Linked DNA regions of Homo sapiens: region 2 is linked to region 1. The links come from fine-mapping of genetic effects on gene expression. A gene starts in region 1. The other region holds a variant in brackets. All regions are shown on one strand. Distances are from middle to middle. Region 1 holds the start of RDH13 (retinol dehydrogenase 13). Region 2 overlaps GP6 (glycoprotein VI platelet).

Region 1 (5,370 bases):
TCAAGAGTCCAAAACATGTCTCACTGGAATAAATCAAGGTATTGGTAGAGTCAGGTTCCTTCTGGAGGCTCTAGGGAAGAATCCACTTCCAGCTCCTACAGACCGCCACATTCCTCCACTCTTGGCCCCGCCTCCATCTTCAACCTGCATCCTCACTGGAACCTCTCCTTTATTTATTTATTTATTTACTTATTTATTTTTGAGACAGAGTCTCGCTCTGTCGCCCAGGCTGGAGTGCAGTGGCTCAATCTCAGCTCACTGTAACCTTCGCCTCACAGGTTCAAGCGATTCTCCTGCCTTAGCCTCCTGAGTGGCTGGGATTACAGGCACATGCCACCACACCTGGCTAATTTCTTTTGTATTTTTAGTAGAGACAGAGTTTTACCACGTTGGTCAGGCTGGTCTCGAACTCCTGACCTTGTGATCCGCCTGCCTTGGCCTCCCAAAGTGCTGCGATTACAGGCGTGAGCCACCACACCCAACAACCTCTCCTTCTATCTTCCATCTCCCCTCTGACTGAGCCTCCTGCTCCCTCTTATAAGGACCCTATAAGACTACAAGGCAGGACCGGCACAGTGCCTCACACCTGTAATCCCAGCACTTTGGGAGGCCAAGACAGGAGGATCACTTGAGGTCAGGAGTTCGAGACCAGCCATGGCCAACATGCTGACACCCCATCTCTACTAAAAATACAAAAATTAGCAGGGCTTGGTGGTGCACGCCTGTAGAGTCAGCTACTCGGGAGGCTGAAGTGGGAGGACCACCTGAGCCCAGGGAGGGTGAGGCTGCAGTGAGCTGTGACAGCATGACTGCACTCCAGCCTGGGTGACAGAGAGACCCTGTCTCCAAAAAAAAAAAAAGACTACATGATAATCATAAGATCCTTCACTTGGCCGGGCACGGTGGCTCACGCCTGTAACCCCAGCACTTTGGGAGGCCAAGGTGGCCAGATCCCCTTTGGTCGGGAGCTCAAGACCAGCCTGACCAACATGGAGAAACCTCGTCTCTACTAAAAATACAAAATTAGACAGGCGTGGTGGCACATGCCTGTAATCCCAGCTACTCAGGAGGCTGAGGCCGGACAATCGCTTGAACCCGGGAGGTGGAGGTTGTGGTGAGCCGAGGTCGTGCCATTGCACTCCAGCCTGGGCAACAACAGCGAAACTCTGTCTCAAAAAAAAAAAAGATGCTTCACTTAACACATCAGCGAGAACCTCTGACACGTGAGGTAATGTCGTCACACCTTCCGAGGATTAGGACGTGGACCCCTCTACGGAGTCACGACTCTGCCCACCACACCCATGTCCCACAGAGGCTAACGCTGGCAACAAGATAGTGTCCAGCAACAGGAGGCTGAGCAGGTAAACAGCACTGCACCCACAGGAGAGAAGGGCACCATGCAATACAGTGGCCACCAGCCACAGAGGCTAATTTTTAAGAAAGTTTAAATTAAGTAGGCTGGGCGAGGTGGCTCACGTCTGTAATCCCAGCACTTTGGAGGCCGAGGCAGGCGGATCACCTGAGGGCAGGTGTTTGAGACCAGCCTGGCCAACATGGCAAAACCCCGTCTCTGCGAAAAATACAAAAATTAGCCGGGCGTGGTGGCGCACGTGTGATCTCAGCTCCTGGGGACGCCAAGGTGGGAGGATCACCTGAGCCCAGGAGGTCAAGGCTGCAGTGAGCCAAGATCGCGCCACTGCACTCCAGCCTGGGCGACAGAGCCAGATTCTGCCTTTAAAAATAAACGAACAAATAAATAATACAAAACAACAAAATAAAGAGTTTAAAAGTCTGGAAGGAAAGCAACATTTACAAGGGCCCAGGCTCGCCCTTCCCTCCGAGTGACCTTGGGCCGGTGACCTGGCCGGCCAGAGCGCAGGTTTGCCCCACTCCGGGCGGGCACTGCGGGTCGGGAGCTACGGGGCCTGGACCCGGGTGCGAGGGGCGGGGGTCTCCGCCGCCTTCCCGGCCCCTGCGCTGGGGGCCCGCCTTGACCGCGCACGCGGGGCTAGAATGTACTCACTTGAGCAGCACGGCGGCGCCTGCTACCGTGCCCAGCGCCGACAGCGGCAGCAGGTAGCGGCTCATGCCGGGCCGGGGACAGGCGTCAGGCGTCAGGGGTCGGCGCGGAGCTTGCTGCACACCAGCCGCCTGGGTAGCTCCGAGGAAGAGCGCGCGACGCAGCCACAGGCGAGCGGAGGCGCAGGCGCGGCTGGGCCCGCGTCCGGAACTGGGCTGCGAGGGGCGGGGCGCGGGCGGAGGGGGCGGGGATCCTAGGGACGGGACCTATGAGCATCGGTCCTGAGCGCTGTCACAGCTGGGATTGGTGGTTTCAGGAGCCTGTGGGCGTGGCTAGTCCGGGGGCGGGGCCTATGGTTTGTTCGAATGACGTCACACTTGCCGCAGCGTATAAGGCGCTACGCAGTTCTGGAGTGAAATAGGTTCGAATCCCACCACTGTCAATTCCAGACTGTGACCCTCTGTGTGTCTTTCAACTATATCAGCCTATTCCCTCATCTGGAAATGTGTGTTTACCTTCTTCATAGACTTTTGGAGATAATTTGAGAATTTCCATGCACAGAAACAAGGATCTAGTAGCCTGTGGGTACCCAAGCTCCTGGGGTCCTGCAGGAGAAGGCGGCTGGGGGCCTGGACTCCTGGGTCTGAGGGAGGAGGGGCTGGGGGCCTGGACTCCTGGGTCCAAGGGAGGAGGGGCTGGGAGCATGGACTTCTGGGTCCGAGGGAGGAGGGCCGGGTGCCTGGACTGCTGAGTCTGAGGGAGGAGGGGCTGGGGGCCTGATTCATTCCCAAATTATCAGAATCTCATCCCCATGTCTGGCCCTGCACAGAGATATCTTCCCTGAACTCTGCCTGAACTACCTTTCTTAGATTGAGTATTGCACACACTCCTGCACTTACCTGTCCATGTTTGTCACCCCCACCAAACCGGGATGCACCTCTGGGCACCTGCTTCCCCTTGCACTGCTCACAGCGAGTGTATCTGATCACCACCTCCTACCCCTGACTGTGCCTGAGGTGCCAGGAGCAGACACCGCTGGAAACAGGGAAGAATTCAACCCAATCTAACTAGGAGTAAGTTTTCTTCCTCATCAGATGAACTGTCATCTTCTTATATGAGCCCTGCCATAATGGAGATTATACAGGCAGGAAGAGCTATTTTAAGACCTTAGTCAATGGCCGGGCACGGTGGCTCACGCCTGTAATCCCAGCACTTTGGGAGGCCGAGACAGATGGATCACGAGGTCAGGAGATTGATACCAGCCTGGCCAACATGGTGAAACCCTGTCTCTACTAAAAATACAAAAATTAGCTGGATGTGGTGGCACTCACCTGTAGTCCCAGCTACTCAGGAGGCCGAAGCAGGAGCATCACTTGAACTCGGGAGGTGGAGGTTGCAGTGAGCCGAGATTGCCCTACTGCATTCCAGCCTGGCGACAGAGTGAAATTCTGTCAAAAAAAAAAAAACCTTAGGCCTGTAGACCTTAAGCTCTCACCATCTCAAACGTATTAAACCAGTTACACAATGCCAAATGCTGTATAAGAGGCACTTGGAGGAGTCAAATTCATAGAGACAGAAAACAGAGTGGTGGCTGCAGGGGGCTGGAGATGAGATTGGGAAGTCACAGGATTTGTTTTTGTTTGTTTGTTTGTTTTGTTTTGTTTTTTGAGAGACAGTCTCACTGTGTCACCCAGGCTGGAGAGCAGTGGGCGATCTCAGCTCACTGCAACCTCTGCCTCCTAGGTTCAAGCGATTCTCCTGCCTCAGCCTCCCGAGTAGCTGGGGCTACAGGCACGTGTCACCACACCCGGCTAATTTTTGTATTTTTAGTAGAGACGGGGTTTCACCATGTTGGCCAGGTTGGTCTCAAACTCCTGACCTCAGGTGATCCACCTGCCTCGGCCACCCAAAGTGCTGGGATTACAGGCATGAGCCACCGCACCCGGCCGGGAAGCTGTTTTTTAATAGATACAGAGTTTGTTTTGCAAAATAAAAAAAAGACCTGAAGGTGGACGGTGGTGATGGTTGCACAACAATGTGAATATACTTAACATCACTGAATTGTACACTTAAAATGGTTAAGATGGTACATTTTACTTTATGCATAGTTTACCAAACTAAAAATAAAGAAAAATTTTAGACTGGGCATGGTGGCTCATGCCTGTAATCCCAGCACTTTGGGAGGCCAAAGTGGAGAATAGTATGAGCCCAGGAGTTTGAGAGCGGCCTGGACAACACGGCAAAACCTTATCTCTACAAAAAATACAAAAATTAGCAGGTTTGGTGGCACGCATCTGCACCCTCAGCTACTTGGGAGGCTGAGGTGGGAGGTCTGCTTGAGCCCAGGAGGTCAAGGCTATGATGAGCTGTGATTGTGCCACTGCACCCCAGGCTGGGTGACAGAGCAAGACCCCATCTCAAAAATAATAATAATAAATGTTTACATTTAATAACATGGGCAATTGGTTCAGATGTTCATTTTCTCAACCTTGAAAAAAAAACAACACTGTTTTTCCCTGTCTTTTTCTCCTTTTCTGTAAACTGAAATCCTAATATCATTGACTTCCAGGACAGAGATCAGCAAACTTTTTCTACAAACAGCCAGATAGTAAATAATTTCAGCTTTGTGATCCACACAGTGGCTGTTGCACCTCCTCTGCCAGAGGAGCTGGGAAGCAGCCACAGATGATGTGAAAACAAGTGAGCACAGCTGTGTTCCCATAAAACTTTATTTATAAAAATAAGCAGTGCGCCACAGTTCGCCAGCTCCTGTTTGAGAGTCTCTCTCCGATGCCCAGGCTGGAGCGCAGTGATGCAATCTCAGCTCACTGCAACCTCTGCCTCCTGGGTTCAAGCGATTCTCCTGCCTCAGCCTCATGAGTAGCTGGGATTACAGGCGCTCGCCGCCACACCTGGCTGATTTTTGTATTTTTAGTAGAGACGGGGTTTCACCATGTTGGCCAGGCTGGTTTTGAACTCCAGGCTTCAGGTGATCCACCTGCCTCAGCCTCCCAAAGTGCTGGGATTACAAAGCGTGAGCCACTGCGCCCAGCTACCTGTCATTGAATTTGGAAGGATGGCATGAAGTCATTCATAACAAGGACTTAATCCATAGTAAGTGCCAGAACATTGCTGGCTGTTAATATGGTTATTATAAAGAGAACAATGCATGCATATTCCTCCTCTGAGGATCTCCTACCTGATTCCCAGACACACCCAAGGGAGTTAGAACATCTGTTTGGACTCCAGGTGGGCTGTCCACGCCTTTACCATTTTCCTGGTTGTTAACATGTTCCTGATCAGCACTGGGTGCTGTCCCAGGTGCTGAGAGGATTCTCCCACAATGCCCT
Region 2 (5,370 bases), 38 kb before region 1:
TGCAGATGACATGATCCTATATCTAGAAAACCCCATCATCTCAGCCCAAAAGTTTCTTAAGCTGATAAGCAACTTCAGCAAAGTCTCAGGATACAAAATCAATGTGCAAAAATCACAAGCATTCCTATACACCAACAATAGACAGGCAGAGAGCCAAATCATGAAGGAACTCCCATTCACAATTGCTACAAAGAGAATAAAATACCTAGGAATACAGCTAACAAGGAAAGTGAAGGACATCTTCAAGGAGAACTACAATTCACTGCTCAAGAAAATCAGAGCGGACACAAACAAATGGAAAAACATTCCATGCTCATGGATAGGATGAATCAATATCGTGAAAATGGCCATACTGCCCAAAGTAATTTATAGATTCATTGCTATTCCCATTGAACTATCATTGACATTCCTCACACAATTAGAAAAAACTATAAAATTCATATGGAACCAAAAAAGGGCCCATATAGCCAAGACAATACTAAGCAAAAAGAACAAAGCTGGAGGCCTCAGGCTCAGACTTCAGACTATATTACAAGGTGATAGTAACCAAAACAGCATGGTACTGGTACAAAAACAGACACATAGACCAATGGAACAGAATAGAGATCTCAGAAATAAGACCACACATCTACAACCATCTGATCTTCAACAAACCTGACAAAAACAAGCAATGGGGAAAGGATTCCCTATTTAATACACCTTGTTTTGATTTTGATTTCAACACAGCGTGTGGTATTTGCATGCCATGTGATACAGTTTGAATATGTGTTCCCACCAAATCTCATACTGGATTATGATCCCCAATGTTGGAGGTGGGGGCCTGGTGGGAGGTGTTTGGATCATAGGGGTGGATCCCTCATTGCTTGGTGCTTTCCTTGCAATAGTAAGTGAATTCTCACAAGATCTGGCTATTGCAAAGTGTGGCATGTCCCCCAGTCCCAACTCTCTCTCTCTCTTGCTCCTGCTCCCACCACATGAGACAGCTACCCCCTCTTTGCCTTCTGCCATGACTGTAAGCTTCCTGAGGCCTCCCCAAAAGCAGAAGCCAGCCTTCTGCTTCCTATACGGCCTTCAGAACCATGAACCAATTAAACCTCTTTTCTTATCAATGATCCAGTCTCAGATATTTATAGCAGCACAAAATCGGCCTAATATAGCATGAAATATTGCTCAGCAATCAAAAGGAACACATCATTGATACATACAGCAGCTTGGATGGGCCTCAGGGGCATTGCACTGAGTGACAAAAGGATATCTCAAACGGTTGCATACTGGATGATCCCATTTACATCAGATTCTAGAAATGGAAGATTATAGAGATGGAGAACAAATTAATGGATACCAGGAGTTAGGGATGGCAAGGGAAGGAGAAGGGTGTAGGTGTGAATATAAAAGGGTAGCCCAAGGGAGGCCCTTGTGAGACGGAAGAGTTCTGTACAGTGACTGCGGTGATGGTGACGCGAATCTACAACTGTGACAAATTGGCATAGAACTAGACACCTACTTTATGCCAATGTCAAATTCCTGGTTTTTATGTTGTACTCTAATTACGTAAGATGTAACCATTAGAGGAAACTGGAAAAAGAGCACATGGGATTCTTCTGTTCTATCATTGTAGACTTCCTGTGACTCTAGAACCATTTCAAAAGAGAAAGTTCAAAAATTCAGTCAGAAGCACACGCACACATATGCACGCATGCACACACACACATATGCACGCATGCACACACATATGCACGCACACACACATATGCACGCACACACGCACATGCACGCACACACACATATGCACGCACACAGTATGTGACCATCTTCCATGTCCCTGCCCACTAGGCATAATAGCCCTCACTCTGCCCTCAACCCCGCAAATCTCATCCTTATCAACCTCGGCTCTTTCCAGCATGTTTCTCCTGCCTTGGTGCTTCACTCTGAGACACAGGGAATGTTAGACACGCCCAGCCTCCAGCCTAGCGTATGATATTCTTAAAGTGCAGGCCGTAGTCTGGTACACCGTATTCAGCTGAGATGTTTGTGAAAGTGGAGGGGATAACACGCCTCACACAAAACTTACCGCAGTGGTTCTCAAAGCAGCATTCTGGAGCCATAGCATCAGCATCACCTGGGAACTTACTAGGAATGAAAATGACTGGATTCACCCCAGACCTACTGAAGCAGAAGCCCTGGGGGCTCAGAAATCTATTCTTTAAGCCTCCAGGTGATTCTTATGCTCATGGAAGTTTGAGAACCGCTGATCAATGCATTCAGTGACTCAGAAACAGAGTCCCGGACTCTACAGGTT[TGTTG/T]GTTGGTTGGTTGGTTGGTTGGTTGGTTAGTTTGTTTGTTTTTGTCACCCATATTCAACCAGCTGGACTCCACAGTATAGCAAGCCACTCCGATTATTCTTCTGCATGTTATATGTGATAAACCATCCACCTAGAGTAGGATTGGGGGCAGCATCTTAACATCTAACTACTTAGGACACCCACCCTGTTTACAGGCAGAAATAAAGGATTTTTAAAACAAAGCAAATCTGTGAAAGAACCAACTGAATTAAATCGAGAAGTCTAGGCAGAGAGGAGAGAGAGAAGGGGTCCGTGTACCTCATACGCTGTGCACCAGAATGGACCCTGCAGAACCTACCTGCTACCGGGGAAGGTGGTTCTGTTGGTAACCGGCTGGGGGTCACAGAGGTTCCTGGGAAATCAGAAAATGAGATAAATCTGTGCTCTGTCGCTGTGGGTCCTGAACAAATAACGAAACATCTCCGTGACTGAGTTTCCTCACCGGAAAAATGAGCCTAAAGTAGCTTACATCACTGGACTGTTGTGGATGTTAATAAGCATTTGAGCTGGGTGCAGTGCCTCATGCCTGTAATCCCAGCACTTTGGGAGGCTGAGGAGGGCAGATCACTTGAGGTCAGGAGTTCAAGCCCAGCCTGGCCAGTATGGTGAAACCCCGTCTCCACTAAAAATACAAAAATTAGCCAGGCGTGGTGGTGTGCACCTGTAATCCCAGCTGCTCGGGAGGCTGAGGCAGGAGAATCACTTGAACCTAGGAGGCAGAGGTTGCAGTGATCTGAGATCGCACCACTGCACTCCAGCCTGGGTGACGCAGTAAGACTCCATCTGAAAAAAAAAGGCTTAGCCAGGCGTGGTGGCTCACACCTGTAATCCCAGCACTTTGAGAGGCCGAGGCAGGCAGATCACCTGAGGTCAAGAGTTCAAGACCAGCCTGGCCAACATGGTGAAACCCTGTCTCTACGAAAAATACAAAAATTAGCTGGGCATGATGGCAGGTGCCTGTAATCCCATCTACTCAGGAGGCTGAGGCAGGAGAATCGCTTAAACCCAGGAGGTGGAGGTTGCAGTGAACTGAGATCACTCCACTGCACTCCAGCCTGGGTGACAAAGTGAGACTCCCCCCAAAAAAAAAAAAAAAAAAAAAAGCAGCAGCATTTGTAAAGCACACCTGGCACATTCTGGGCTATTAACAAGGAAATGCATGCAGCTCCCGTCCACCTTTTTCAACCTCAGTTCTATTTCTTCTGGATTCCTGTGTCCTACCCCTCACTGTGACCCTGGGGGCAAAACAGATTTTTCTACCAAAAACTAAATGATGTATTTTGTTTGATTTAATATGACATTGTTAAATGTACTGATCAGTGGCGTTGGGTATGTTCACATTGTGGTACAATATGTTGACCTCTAGAACTTATTTTTCTTGCAAAACTGAAATTCTGTGCCCATTAAACACTAATTCCTTCTCTCTCCTCTTTCTGGCCCTTAACAACCACCATTGTACTTTGTGTTTCTACAGTGTTGACATTAGATACCTCCTTTGACTAGAATCATACAGTAGTTGTCCTTTTGTGACTGACTTAGCATAATGTCCTCAAGGTATATCCATGTTGTAGTATGTGTCAGAATTTCCTTCTTTTTTAAGGCTGCATAATATTCCATTGCATGTATATAACCACATTATGAGGTATGCTGCTCTTTTTTGAAAGAAACCCCCTTTAAGAATGGTAGTCAAGTCCGACGCGGTGGCTCACGCCTGTAATCCCAGCACTTTGGGAGGCCGAGGCGGGCAGATCATGAGGTCAGTTCAAGACCAGCCTGACCAACATAGTGAAACCCCGTCTCTACTAAAAATACAAAAATTGGCCGGGCATGGTGGCAGGCACCTGTAATTCCAGCTACTCGAGAGGCTGAGGCAGCAGAATCGCTTGAACCCGGAAGGCGGAGGTTGCAGTGAGCTGAGATCGCGCCACTGCACTCCAGCCTGGGTGACAGAGTGAGACTTCGTCAAAAAAAAAAAAAAGAAACCTCCATTCTCCCAGCTGCCTGTAGCCCAGGGCTTCCTGCCCTCCCACTTCCTTCCCACCTCTGGCCCCGCCCCTGCAGCCCAGGGCTTCCTGCCCTCCCACTTCCTTCCCACCTACGGCCCCGCCCCTGCAGCCCAGGGCTTCCTGCCCTCCCACTTCCTTCCCACCTACGGCCCCGCCCCTGCAGCCCAGGGCTTCCTGCCCTCCCACTTCCTTCCCACCTACGGCCCCGCCCCTGCAGCCCAGGGCTTCCTGCCCTCCCACTTCCTTCCCACCTACGGCCCCGCCCCTGCAGCCCAGGGCTTCCTGCCCTCCCACTTCCTTCCCACCTACGGCCCCGCCCCTGCAGCCCAGGGCTTCCTGCCCTCCCACTTCCTTCCCACCTCTGGCGCCGCCCCTGCAGCCCAGGGCTTCCTGCCCTCCCACTTCTTTCCCACCTATGGCCGCGCCCCTACAGCCCAGGGCTTCCTGCCCTCCCACTTCCTTCCCACCTACGGCCCCGCCCCTGCAGCCCAGGGCTTCCTGCCCTCCCACTTCCTTCCCACCTACGGCCCCGCCCCTGCAGCCCAGGGCTTCCTGCCCTCCCACTTCCTTCCCACTTATGGCCCCTCCCTTGGAATGGCCATCAGGACCTATAAAGGCTGAGGAAGAAAGGTTTGGTCTGCACTACCCCTACCTGTGACCACAAGCTCCAGGGGGTCGCTGGGGGCTGACCACAGGTATGGGTCCCTGCTGGAGAAGCTGTAGCATCGGTAGGTTCCGCTGTGGGCGGCGGTCACCGTGATGATGGGAAAACTAGCCCTGTACCATCTCTCGGGATTCTTGTAGGGCGCAGGGTCCCCTTCCTTGTACAGAGCAAATTGGTCAAAGCCATACCGAGTCTGACACTGTAGGGTTACGTCCCCTCCTGACGACACCGCCGGGCCGGGCTGGGCTGAGAGCGAGGGTTTGGCAAAAACTCCTGGGAGAAAAAGAAAGTCTGATGTTGAAGGCAGGAGCCAGCATCTCAGCTGAGACTGGGGAGGTCCCCACACCTGCCTAAGAGC

What was found. PIP is the estimated chance that this variant, and not a neighbour inherited with it, causes the effect.
Region 2: its variant is fine-mapped to the expression of RDH13 in whole blood (INTERVAL, PIP above 0.99).

Annotation. Positions count from the first base shown.
Region 1 is chr19:55,060,945-55,066,314 of GRCh38, forward strand. It overlaps RDH13 (retinol dehydrogenase 13), which reads right to left and starts at 2,204. Exons shown (of 7, transcript NM_001145971.2): 1 at 2,024-2,204. The coding sequence starts at 2,088. RefSeq lists an enhancer at 547-1,514 and a silencer at 5,214-5,370.
Region 2 is chr19:55,022,578-55,027,947 of GRCh38, forward strand. It overlaps GP6 (glycoprotein VI platelet), which reads right to left. Exons shown (of 8, transcript NM_016363.5): 4 at 5,001-5,285; 5 at 2,641-2,694. All of the region lies in intron 2 of GP6-AS1 (GP6 antisense RNA 1), which reads left to right. Among named protein-coding and RNA genes, the nearest start is that of GP6, 13 kb to the right of the region's middle. RefSeq lists an enhancer at 5,040-5,370. The variant TGTTG/T (reference allele first, on the strand shown) is at 2,300.